Regions from separate parts of the Homo sapiens genome. Here region 1 is linked to region 2. The links come from fine-mapping of genetic effects on gene expression. A gene starts in region 2. The other region holds a variant in brackets. All regions are shown on one strand. Distances are between the middles of the regions. Region 1 overlaps LINC02389 (long intergenic non-protein coding RNA 2389). Region 2 holds the start of LINC02231 (long intergenic non-protein coding RNA 2231).

Region 1 (5,385 bases), 34 kb after region 2:
GTATTTTTAGTAGAGACGGGGTTCTTCCATGCTGGCCAGGCTGGTCTCCAACTCCTGACCTCGTGTGATCTGCTCATCTTGGCCTCCCAAAATGTTGGGATTACAGGTGTGAGCCACTGCTCCTGGCCCAGAATGGCTATTATCAAGAAGTCAAAAGACAACAGATACCGGCAAGGTTGTGGAGGAAAAGGAACACTTTTACACTGTTGGTGGGGGTGTAAATTAGTTTAACAATTGTGGAAGACAGTGTGGCTATTCCTAAAAGACCTAGAAACAAAAACATTCAACCCAGCAATCTCATTACTGGGTATATACCCAAAGGAATAGAAATCGTTCTATTATAAAGTCACATGCACATATATGTTCATTGCAGCACTATTCACAATAGCAAAGACATGGTCTCAACCTAAATGCCCATCAATGATAGACTGGATAAAGAATATGTGGTACATATACACCATGGAATACTATCTAGCCATAAAAAGGAACGAGATCATGTCCTTTGCAGGGACATGGATGGAGCTAGAAGCCATTATCCTTAGCAAACTAACACAGGAACAGAAAACCAAATACCACATGTTCTCACTTATAAGTGGGAGCTAAATGATGAGAACACACGGACACATGGGGAGAACAACACACACTGGGGTCTGTCGGAGGACATGGGGTTGGAGGAGGGAGAGGATCAGGAAGAATAGCTAGTGGATGTTGGGTTTAAATACCTACGTGATGAGATGATCTGTGCAGCAAACCACCGTGACACACGTTTACCTATGTAACAAACCTGCACATCCTATACATGTACTCCTGAACTTAAAAGTTGGAAATTTAAGAAAAAAAGTCTTTGTGACTAATGAAGGTTTTTTCTTCTATTTTTATTTTTGTCTATTTTTTGAGATGGAGCCTCACTCTGTCATCCGGGTTGGAGTGCAGTGGCACAATCTTGACACACTGCAACCTCTGTCTCCCAGGTTCAAGCAATTCTCCTGCCTCAGCCTCCCAAGTTGCTGGGAATACAGACGCACACCACCACGCCTGGCTAATTTTTGTATTTTTTTAGTAGAGATGGGATTTCGCCATGTTGGCCAGGCTGGTCTTGAACTGCTGACCTCAGGTGATCTGCCCACCTCAGCCTCCCAAAGTGCTGCAATTACAGGCGTGAGCCACTGTGCCCGGCCTCTTCTGTTTATTAAAAAAGATTTGTTGAGTCTATGATGTGTTAGGCTTTATGGAAGATACTCAGAATCCAAAAATGTAGTAATTTGACCAAGTGGATTTACAGAAACAAAATGAAACATAAATGGAAACTTGGAGGCATCCAAGTTTCTAAAACTAATTAAGTGGCCTATACCTCCTGGCAAGTAGAATCTCTCAAATTGTGGGATACTCAGAGACTCATCTGCAGTCCCAAAGTCAAAGTTTGGTGGAAAGCATGGTGGTCTGTTTAAATAACACACTCCTCCCAGGGCCTAACAACACTGGTTGCCTCTGGGGAGGGAAAATGGGAGCAGAGGGATAAATAAATGTGGGGGTTTTTTCATCCATTCAAACAACATTGAGCAACTACTATGTGTCTGTAGCTCTTTGAGGTCTTAATAACTGTGTGGTCTTGGGCACTTTTAAACTTTTTGGACCATAGTTTATAATTAATCCATCAAGGATAATGGGTGTTTAGTAATTATTAATTTATTTCCTTAATACTTGTAAATTTTAAATTGTAAATTGCTCCAAGTATAAAATTCAGGCCTTATTTATCTATAAAGGGAATAAAGGAAAATTCAATTAGACTCCTCAGATAATCTGTGGATACTTGAGTACTTCTGAAAAAGATATTTCTTCTGAGATGGAAACCAGGTCCCTGACCCTGCAATTTGGTCTTTCGTCAGGGTCCTGCTCAAGGGCCATACATCAAGTCCACTCCAAAAGCAAAGGCTCCTGACATTTGTGGCACTGAGGGCTCCATGCAGCTCAGGTTTTACACATTCACATACAGAGACTATCTCCTGCCAGGTTCCCTGCCTATCAAGCTTAGGCGATGAGCTGAAGGAGAGGGCCTCACGATACGTGGCAGCAGGCTTGTATTTTCCTAAATGCCAAGTCCCCACCAAAGCCTGAATGCAGTCTCCAGAGTTTGGCCAGTCCCTGATTCCTCCTTTGCACCACAGTCAAAAAGGGTACCCAGGTCCTTATGAGACTCAGAGGACCAGAGCCAATTGCAGCCAACATTACAGCTGGTGGACAGCACCCTACACCTCCTGGCAAGTAGAATCCCCCAAATTGTGGGATACTCAGAGACTCACCTGCAGTACCAAAGTCAAAGTTTGGTGGAGAGCATGGTGGTCTGTTGAAATAGTACACTCCTCCCAGGGCCTAATAACACCAGTTGCCTCTGGGGAGGGAAAATGGGAGCAGAGGGATAAATGTGGGGTTTTTTCTTCCATTCAAACAACATTGGGTATCTACTATGTGCCTGTAGCTCTTTGAGGTTCTAGAGACACTGAATGAACAAAAAAAAATGCAAAAACCTTTGCCCTCGTGGAGCTTATTTTCTATCGGGGACCAAGACGATAAATAACATACATTTTTAAATGTCAATGTTAATTATAAATGCTAAGTGATAAATGTCCATCATACAGCATTGCATTTACCTATTTACTGATCTGTCTCTTTCACTACAATGGGAACAACTGGAGGGCAAGAATCAAACCTGTTCTTGACTCCAGGCCTTTGCACTTACTGTTCCCTTAGCCAGCACACTTGTC[C/T]CCAAGTGCAGCAATTACACAAAGCAGGGGGGAAATTTGTTAACTGGCAGAATAAATGAAGGCTATGCCTAAGCATGTGTTCCAATAAATGTTTTCAGGAGCACTTGCATATATGTGCATACATGTGCACAAACAAGTGAAACGATGAGCTATGTGGGGATAGACACAGAATAGCCCCCACAGTGGTCCCTCAAGAAAGATGAGATGCATCATGAAGGGGCTGTTCTGTGGGTGTGGGGGTGCAGGAACAGAGTGCAGACAGGCTTCTGCCCTGGCCCTCAATGTGGAAGGGTGAGAACAAGAGATGAGCACACAGCTTTAGTCTGAAAGTCTCTCTTGCTTCCTTTGTTTCCAGTGCCATGACTTAAGGAGTGAAGAGAGGGCATAGAGAACAAGCAGAGTATGCAGGGCATATGCTGAGATAAGAAACTGGATCTGAAACAAGTTGAATACTTGCAGGTAGGAAGAAATGGATCGCACCAAACCAAGGTTGCTCTGGGTCTCCACATTCCCTCTGGTTCAAACCTCATTGTTAAGTCGGATTCCCATTCATCCTCCTCTTCCCTGTCCTGTTCCTGTTCTGAACATAGGCTTGAGGGTGACTTATGTTCCTCTCCCAGCTAAGCTCTCAGAGGACAGGAGTTGGGCTGGGAACTCACTCTGGACAGCAGAGCTCTCCAAAGATTTTATAGGAAGAACTACTTTTTATTTTCTCAGTCATTAAAAAAAAACTCCAGTCATTTGTACATATTTTCAAAAAACATAGAAAATAATATTTTTTAAAAGTCATTCATAATGCTGGGTGTGGTGGCTCATGCCTGTAATCCCAGCCTCGGGAGGCCAAGGCAGGTGGATCATGAGGTCAGGAGATCGAGACCATCCTGGCCGACATGGTGAAACCCCCTCTCTACTAAAAATAGAAAAATTAGCCAGGCATGGTGGCACATGACTGTAATCCCAGCTACTAGGGAGGCTGAGGCAAGAGAATTGCTTCAACCAGGGAATCAGAGGTTGCAGTGAGCCAAGATCACGCCACTGCACTCCTGCCTGGCAACAAAGGGAGACTCTGTCGCAAAAAAAGAAAAAAGAAAAAAGAAAAAAAAATCACTCATAATCTACCACCCAGGAATACCACTGTTAATATTTTAGTGTACTTCCTTCAAGTCTTTGTTTTTACACAATTAAATTCATTTTGAATATATAATCTGCAATTCTGCTGTTTTTATGTAATATGCTGTTATAAGCTTTTTCTCATACTATTTTCAATTCTTCCAAATTTCCATTGTTGTTGCTGCAGAATAATCTACCATTTATCTATTCATTCTATTGTTGGACAATAACTTTCCTAAAAGTTTTGTGTGGTCTTGGATTCTGTGCCAACTGAGACAAGGGCCTGGGTGGAATGGAAGGTGCCAAGCCTGACAATACCTGCATACCAACAGGGAGTCTGGCAACCATGACAAGTAGTGTGAGGGTGGGGGCCGAGGAAATGTAGACGCCATCTTGGAGTCCTACCACGCAGAGCTTCAAGATCTGCTGGTGGATGTCGATGCATTGTTGGAAGACTCCGGTCAGATCTAGCACTGAACTAGGTATAGCAATAGTATAAGAAATGCTGTATGATGACAAAGCTGAGAAAGTGGGAGAGAAAGCAGTAAAGCAGCCACACTCTGAGGTACTCCAATTAAGGCTGTAGGAATTTACTTTTCTATTAGTTTCATGTACTGCTTCAACTTTAACTTTGGAGGCATTCCTGTATTTATGAGAACCAATTAAATAGTACTGACTTGGGAGCACTTAAGCACCACAATGGGAGAGCCACAGTGCAGTTATTTTCACGGTGGAACGGTGGGCTAAGGTGACCTAAGGGTCTTCTCCCTGAGTCCTCATAGGTTGCTAGTTAATAGTAGTGACATCTCATGCACCATTTACATTGTTTTCATTGTGTTAGTTTTTTGTTGTTTTTTATTGTATTAAAAACTTGAATTAGTTAAACCTGCAGCTGTTTTTGTGTAACTTGTGAGTCAAGAGTAGTTTTTACAAAAAGAAGAATATGAGACAGAGACTGTATGTGTCCTACAAAGCCCAAAATATCTACTATCTGGCTATTTACAGAAAAGTTTCCTGACCCTCAGCTTAAGAAATAAATAAACCTCAAATTTCAGTAGCTTTGCAAAATAAAGTTTTTTTCTTGTTATTCAGTTCAATGCAGATGTTCCCAGCCCAGAAGTGATACATATTATCTCACTTCTGTGGCAAGAAGCAGTCACATGCTCACATTTGCAGCAAAAAGGCTGGAAAATGTAGCCTTTTGTCTGGACAATGACCCTCAAGGACACTTTCCCTTCTTTATTGTATGTCAGAGCTCAGACCTCCCCTATAGAGGGGGAAGAATGTATTTTGGGTGGACAGATAGGTCTCTCTGCCAAGGTTCAATTACATGTATGTATATACACTTAATTTTTAAAGTAAGTATGTGTTGTTAATTTCAATGTAAATTCCTTGTGTTTTTTTAACCTACAAGAAGTTTGCCTGCAAGGAGTTTTTTAGAAACAAACTACTGAAAGGCTGGGGAGGGGGCTGTAACTTATTGCAATTAAGGAGAAGTCAGACAAACATTAAC
Region 2 (5,385 bases):
TCGGAGTAAATTTGGGAAGATTTAATAGAAGGTAATACCAATAAACCAGGAAAGACTTAGTGGTGACTTGTATTGGGGCGCGTCAGCCCAGGCTCACATTACGCACGAAAGATACTAGATTTAAAGAGGGATTTCAAGTTTCAGATCCCACCTGCCTCTTGCCTGAGATAGTGCTCCTCACATCCTACCAGAGTGTCTCAAGATCTAAAAGAAGCAGAAAGTATATCTGGAAGGTTTCCATACCTGCAGCTAAACCAAGTTGAGGAAAACAGGCATTGACACCATTGAATTTGGGATGGTTTCCTATAGCTAGTTTTTTTTTTTTAATCGACTTTTATTTTCAGTTCCAGGGCACATAGGCAGGATATGCAGGTTTGTTACATAGGTAAATGTGTGCCACAGCAATTCACTGCACAGATCATCCCATTGTAGCAGGATGAGCCGCAGACAAAACCCCTCAGACACCGAGTTAAAGAAGGAAGGGCTTTATTCAGCTGGGAGAATCGGTGGACTCACGTCTCAAAAACCGAGCTCCCTGAGTGAGCAATTCCTGTCCCTTTTAAGGGCTTACAACTCTAAGAGGGTCTGCATGAGAGGGTCGTGATCGATTGAGCAAGCAGGGAGTACGTGACTGGGGGCTGTATGCACCAGTAATCAGAAAGGAACAGAACAGGACAGGGATTTTCATGATGCTTTTCCATACAATGTCTGAAATCTATAGATAACACAAGCAGTTAGGTCAGGGGTTGATTTTTGACTACCAGGCCCAGGGCGCAGTGCTGGGCTGTCTGCCTGTGGATTCCATTTCTGCCTTTTAGTTTTTACTTCTTATTTCTTTGGAGGCAGAAACTGGGCATAAGACAATATGAGGGGTGGTTTTCTCCCTTACCATCACCCAGGTATTAAGCCCAATATGTATTAGCTATTCTTCTCAAGGCTTTCCCTCCCCACACACCCCTCCCCTGACAGGCCCCAGTGTATGTTGTTTCCCCCATGTGTCCATGTGTTCTCATTGTTCAGCTCCCACTTATAAATGACAACACATAGTATTTGGTTTTCTGTTCCTTTGTGAGTTTGCTGAGGATAGTGGCTTCCAGCTCCATCCATGTCCCTGCAAACAACATGATCTCATTCCTTTTATGCCTGCTTAGTATTCCATGGTGTATATGTACCCCATTTTCTTTATCCAGTCTATCATTGATGGGCATTTGGGTTGATTCCATGTCTTTGCTATTGTGAATAATGCTGCAATGAACATATGTGTGCATGTATCTCTATAATAGAATGATTTATATTCCTTTGGGTATATGCCCAGTAATGGGATTGCCTACAGCTAGTTTTAAAACCATCTACAATTCAGATCGTCTTCAAGGTTTTAGCAGCATGAGATTTTTCAGTGACAGAGATTATAGCATTGCAGTTGGACCACTGTAATCATAGAAGCATCAGCATTCCTACTGCTAACATGGTATTTCAAGAGCTATAAAACTTACAGCATGCTGCAATGTGGCATGCAAAGTTAGCCACAAAGTGTATACATTTCCTAAAAAGACTCAATCACTCCATTCTTAAAAAGCAAAAATGGAAATGTAAGTAAAACTTTGTTTAGAATTCATTTAATTTAAAAAGGGTAACCTCTATTACACAATCAGACTTGGTGAATGCAAACCTTCACATGAAGAAGCAAGGTTTTTCTATAGGTATTCCATCAGAGAACCACTTTAAAAAGTACGTTTGTTGGACTTCTAGAAAACCCAATTGCTTCTCAATTCAGCATTTCCCCTTGAGAGCATTAAAAAGAGCATTTTTATAGGCCCTTATTTTCTTTCTTGGGGGAAAAATATCATCACTATCCCTGATTCTTAAAGATAATAGAGGTACTGAGTTTAATTTCCAAAAAAAAGATGGGAAATGAAGGCAAAAATCCTGACACCCAATGTTCCATACTAATGCTATTGAGTTATTTCTTATTCCCATCAGAGAGTGGACTTTAGAATGAAAACTGAGCCTGCTGTTTTATTTTTCGTTTACATTCATGTGGTGGCAGCATCTTAACTGGTGCTGCTATAGCTGAATGAGAAGCAAATACATATCAAAGCTCACTTTCCTCATGGGTAGAAAGCTATTTGACTAACAGATTTCAGCGGTGCCTTGGTGACAAGAAAAGAAAAAACCCTCCAAGGATTCTGGAGGAAGTTGAAAGGCAGGAGGTCAGGCTTCCACCTGCAGGTAGAATGAGTGTTTGCCATTTCCTCAAATTCCTTGAGACCACCCACTGGCATGAAGGATGGTGAGCAAAGCCTGGGGAATGAAGACTATCTTTCAAAAGGTGCTTCCTGGGAGATTTAAGGGAGAAAAAGAAAATAATTTGTTGGTTTGTATGTCAGCTAGCAAGGCTTTTGATCATTCAGTTGGGACAGTTCTGCCTGGAAGGGATCAATCTCTTTTTATTCCAAAGACTAACACCAACAGATACAAATCAAAGGAGGTATTCTTTCAACAAAGGAAATTGCAGAAAGGATGCCTAGGCTTAATTAAAATATAACCTTTTGTTTTAAGGACTTTTCTTTCCCTTGCAAAAGGGAATGCACTCTCTGAAGAAGCATATGCCAGCACTGGTGAGATACAGTTCTTCAACAAGTAAGGATCTGTCTACATTCGGGGCACGTCTTGGGGAAGCCTTGAAGGGAATCGTGCCTGGAGTCCCATCTGACTTAACTCATCATCACAGTCCTTCATCACAACATAATGAGTGTTATTACTTCCTCATGTGGCCTGTGGGCTTTGTTAATTAAAGAATGGAAAGGTAAGTAGTTCCAACCTTTTGCTTTTAATTAATCAAAAGATGTGTTTTCCATCTTCGTGTTGCTGGGCAGCAAGTAAAGTATTTAGTCTGCCTTCCAATACCCAGAAGAGTTCCGTGAAAAAAACTCAGCTGCTGTTTTGGGACTGCATAGACTACATAGCAGATGACTGGCTTTATCTTTTCTTTCTAAAGTTTAATTAATTGTATTGGCCAGTCTGCTGCCTACAATGTAATAGTATTTAGAGAAAAAGAAAGTATTTTCTCATATCATCTCATCAGTACAAATAAAGCCTTCTTAAACCAAAAGTTTATATCTTAGAGTTTCTTGGGCATTTACCATAGTGCTAGGTAATTAGGAGACACTCAGCACAAGGAAAGAAGTGGAACTTACATTTATTGAGTGCCTGCTATGCCAAAACTGGTGCTCTTTTTGTTATATTGTCTTGCCTTTCCGCTCATTTGACTTATTAAAACTTCTATCATTAGGGTCATTCCTCCACATTAAAACACTCTCTGCATTTTAAATAGAAACATATACCTGGAGGGAAAACACATTAATCCATGAACAAGCATCATACCTTAGCGAAGACAGTACCTCAGGGAGTGAGCAGGGCACTAGTATATTTCCTTTTGGAGGGAAGTTAGAAAAAGCCCTAAAGCTGGGGTAGCAAATCGGTTTTCTCTAGTGTGCCAGCCCTGTACAATTAGTGTTGCTGCTCCCTGGAGCTCTGCTTTGAGAATCAGGCAGGAGGCAGAGTCTTAGCTCTGCAGGAAAGAGAATTGCAATTGCCTAATGATGTCAGACCTGCTGCATGCTTCAGTTGCTAAAAGGAAAACTTCAGACAAATTAAATTTAACAGGGTCTAATTGAACAAAGAACAATTCACGAATTGGGCAGCCCTCAAAACTAGAACAAGTTCAGAAAAACTTTGGCCTGCAATGTGGTCAGATAGCATTTATGAACAGAAGATGGAAGTGAGGTACAGAGCTCCATTGATTACAGCTGGTGTTTGCCTTATTCAGCATTTGCTTTATGTGAACATGGTGTTTTGAGTTGGCTGCCTGTGACTGACTGAAGCTCAGCTGCTGTGATTGGCTGTGACTCATTTGTGACAAAAGTATATGCCTAAGCCAGGTTTTCAGTTAGTGTGAGTACTAAGTTACATTGCATTTCATTAGTAAGGACTCAGGTATGGAGGCATTCTCAGGTCAAATTTAGTTTAACAATCCCCCCAAATTTAGTTTAACAATGCCACCTCTCAAAACCTGGGGCATTGATACCACTCTCTGTCACCATCATAAACAAACTTATTTGGTCTCAGCATGAAATTCACAAGTCATGACATCACACCAGTTGAATAATTCTTTATGTTCTTGATGATCAAGTCAAAGTGAGACCACTCAACACTCAGTGGATGGCTGCATACAAATATTTAAGACTTGAGAGGATATGGTACACCAGGGGAGCTACTATGATGACTATCAGAAGGACAACACCAAAAATTCCAAAAGCCTGAGGTGTACTCTCTAACAGGAGCCTCTGCCAACCAAATCAATTTGACCCAAATCAAAGTTCAGGCAATATAGGTGTAGCAGGACAAGATGCAGACAAAACCCCTCAGACACCGAGTTAAAGAAGGAAGCAGTTTATTCGGCCGGGAGCATTGGCAAGACTCCTGTCTCAAGAGCTGAGCTCCCTGAGTGAGCAATTCCTGCCCCTTTTAAGGGCTCACAACTCTAAGGGGGTCCACTTGAGAGGGTTGTGATCGATTGAGCAAGCCAGGGGTACATGACTGGGGGTTGCATGCACTGGTAATTAGATCGGAACAAAACAGGACAGGGATTTTCACAGTGCTTTCCTATACGATATCTGTAATCTATAGATAACATAACTGATTAGGTCAGGCATCGATCTTTAACTACCAGGCCCAGGGTGTGGCACCGGGCTGTCTGCTTGTGGATTTCGTTTCTGCCTTTTAGTTTTTACTTCTTCTTTATTTGGAGGCAGAAATTGGGCATAAGACAATATGAGGGGTGGTCTCCTCCCTTACAGGCAGCTCAAAAGCATTTGAGTACCGTTGGTCATGGTTTTTGTTCAGGAGGTGATAATGATTAAGAACTGCAGTTTGCTGATTTAAAGAGGTATCCAATGTTGTCATTATCTTGTTAACACAAGTCATAGTAATCTGGAGAACCATTAGAAGAGCATAAAGGTTAGAACACCTTGGAAAAGCCAAGCCTACCTGCAAACCAATGGTTTGCTGCTCCTATGAACATGTCATATGTTTCTTTCCTCTGAGAAATTTCCTTTATGTATTTGGTGGCAGTGTCTAAGGAAACAGGATCCAAAACTGCATGATGTTTTATTAAGTGTTTTCAAAAGATGACTTCTACTCACCTGAACCTCTGTGGGGACTGGTTGGTCAAACCCAAGATTTTTCTCATTTTATGGATTACTTTCAAATTCCATACTACCAGTACCCTGCTAGTACCAAGACTGAGCCCCCAGGAATGCCACTGGAATCTTTCCTCAGTAGAAACTAGCTTATCTTCATAAACCCAACAATTGCTCTGTTTTT

The links. PIP is the estimated chance that this variant, and not a neighbour inherited with it, causes the effect. A credible set is the group of variants that fine-mapping cannot tell apart.
Region 1: its variant is the best candidate, but not a certain one, in a credible set for the expression of LINC02231 in nasal epithelium (TOPMed, PIP 0.55).

What each region holds. Positions count from the first base shown.
Region 1 is chr12:64,955,590-64,960,974 of GRCh38, reverse strand. The region is part of intron 2 of LINC02389 (long intergenic non-protein coding RNA 2389); the gene reads right to left. It overlaps LINC02231 (long intergenic non-protein coding RNA 2231), which reads left to right. Exons shown (of 4, transcript NR_146276.1): 3 at 3,118-3,221. Among named protein-coding and RNA genes, the nearest start is that of LINC02231, 34 kb to the left of the region's middle. The variant C/T (reference allele first, on the strand shown) is at 2,763.
Region 2 is chr12:64,989,698-64,995,082 of GRCh38, reverse strand. It overlaps LINC02231 (long intergenic non-protein coding RNA 2231), which reads left to right and starts at 2,792. Exons shown (of 4, transcript NR_146276.1): 1 at 2,792-2,806. LOC107984522 (a long non-coding RNA gene) reads right to left here. Exons shown (of 2, transcript XR_001749177.2): 2 at 4,437-5,385. RefSeq lists an enhancer at 1,929-2,455.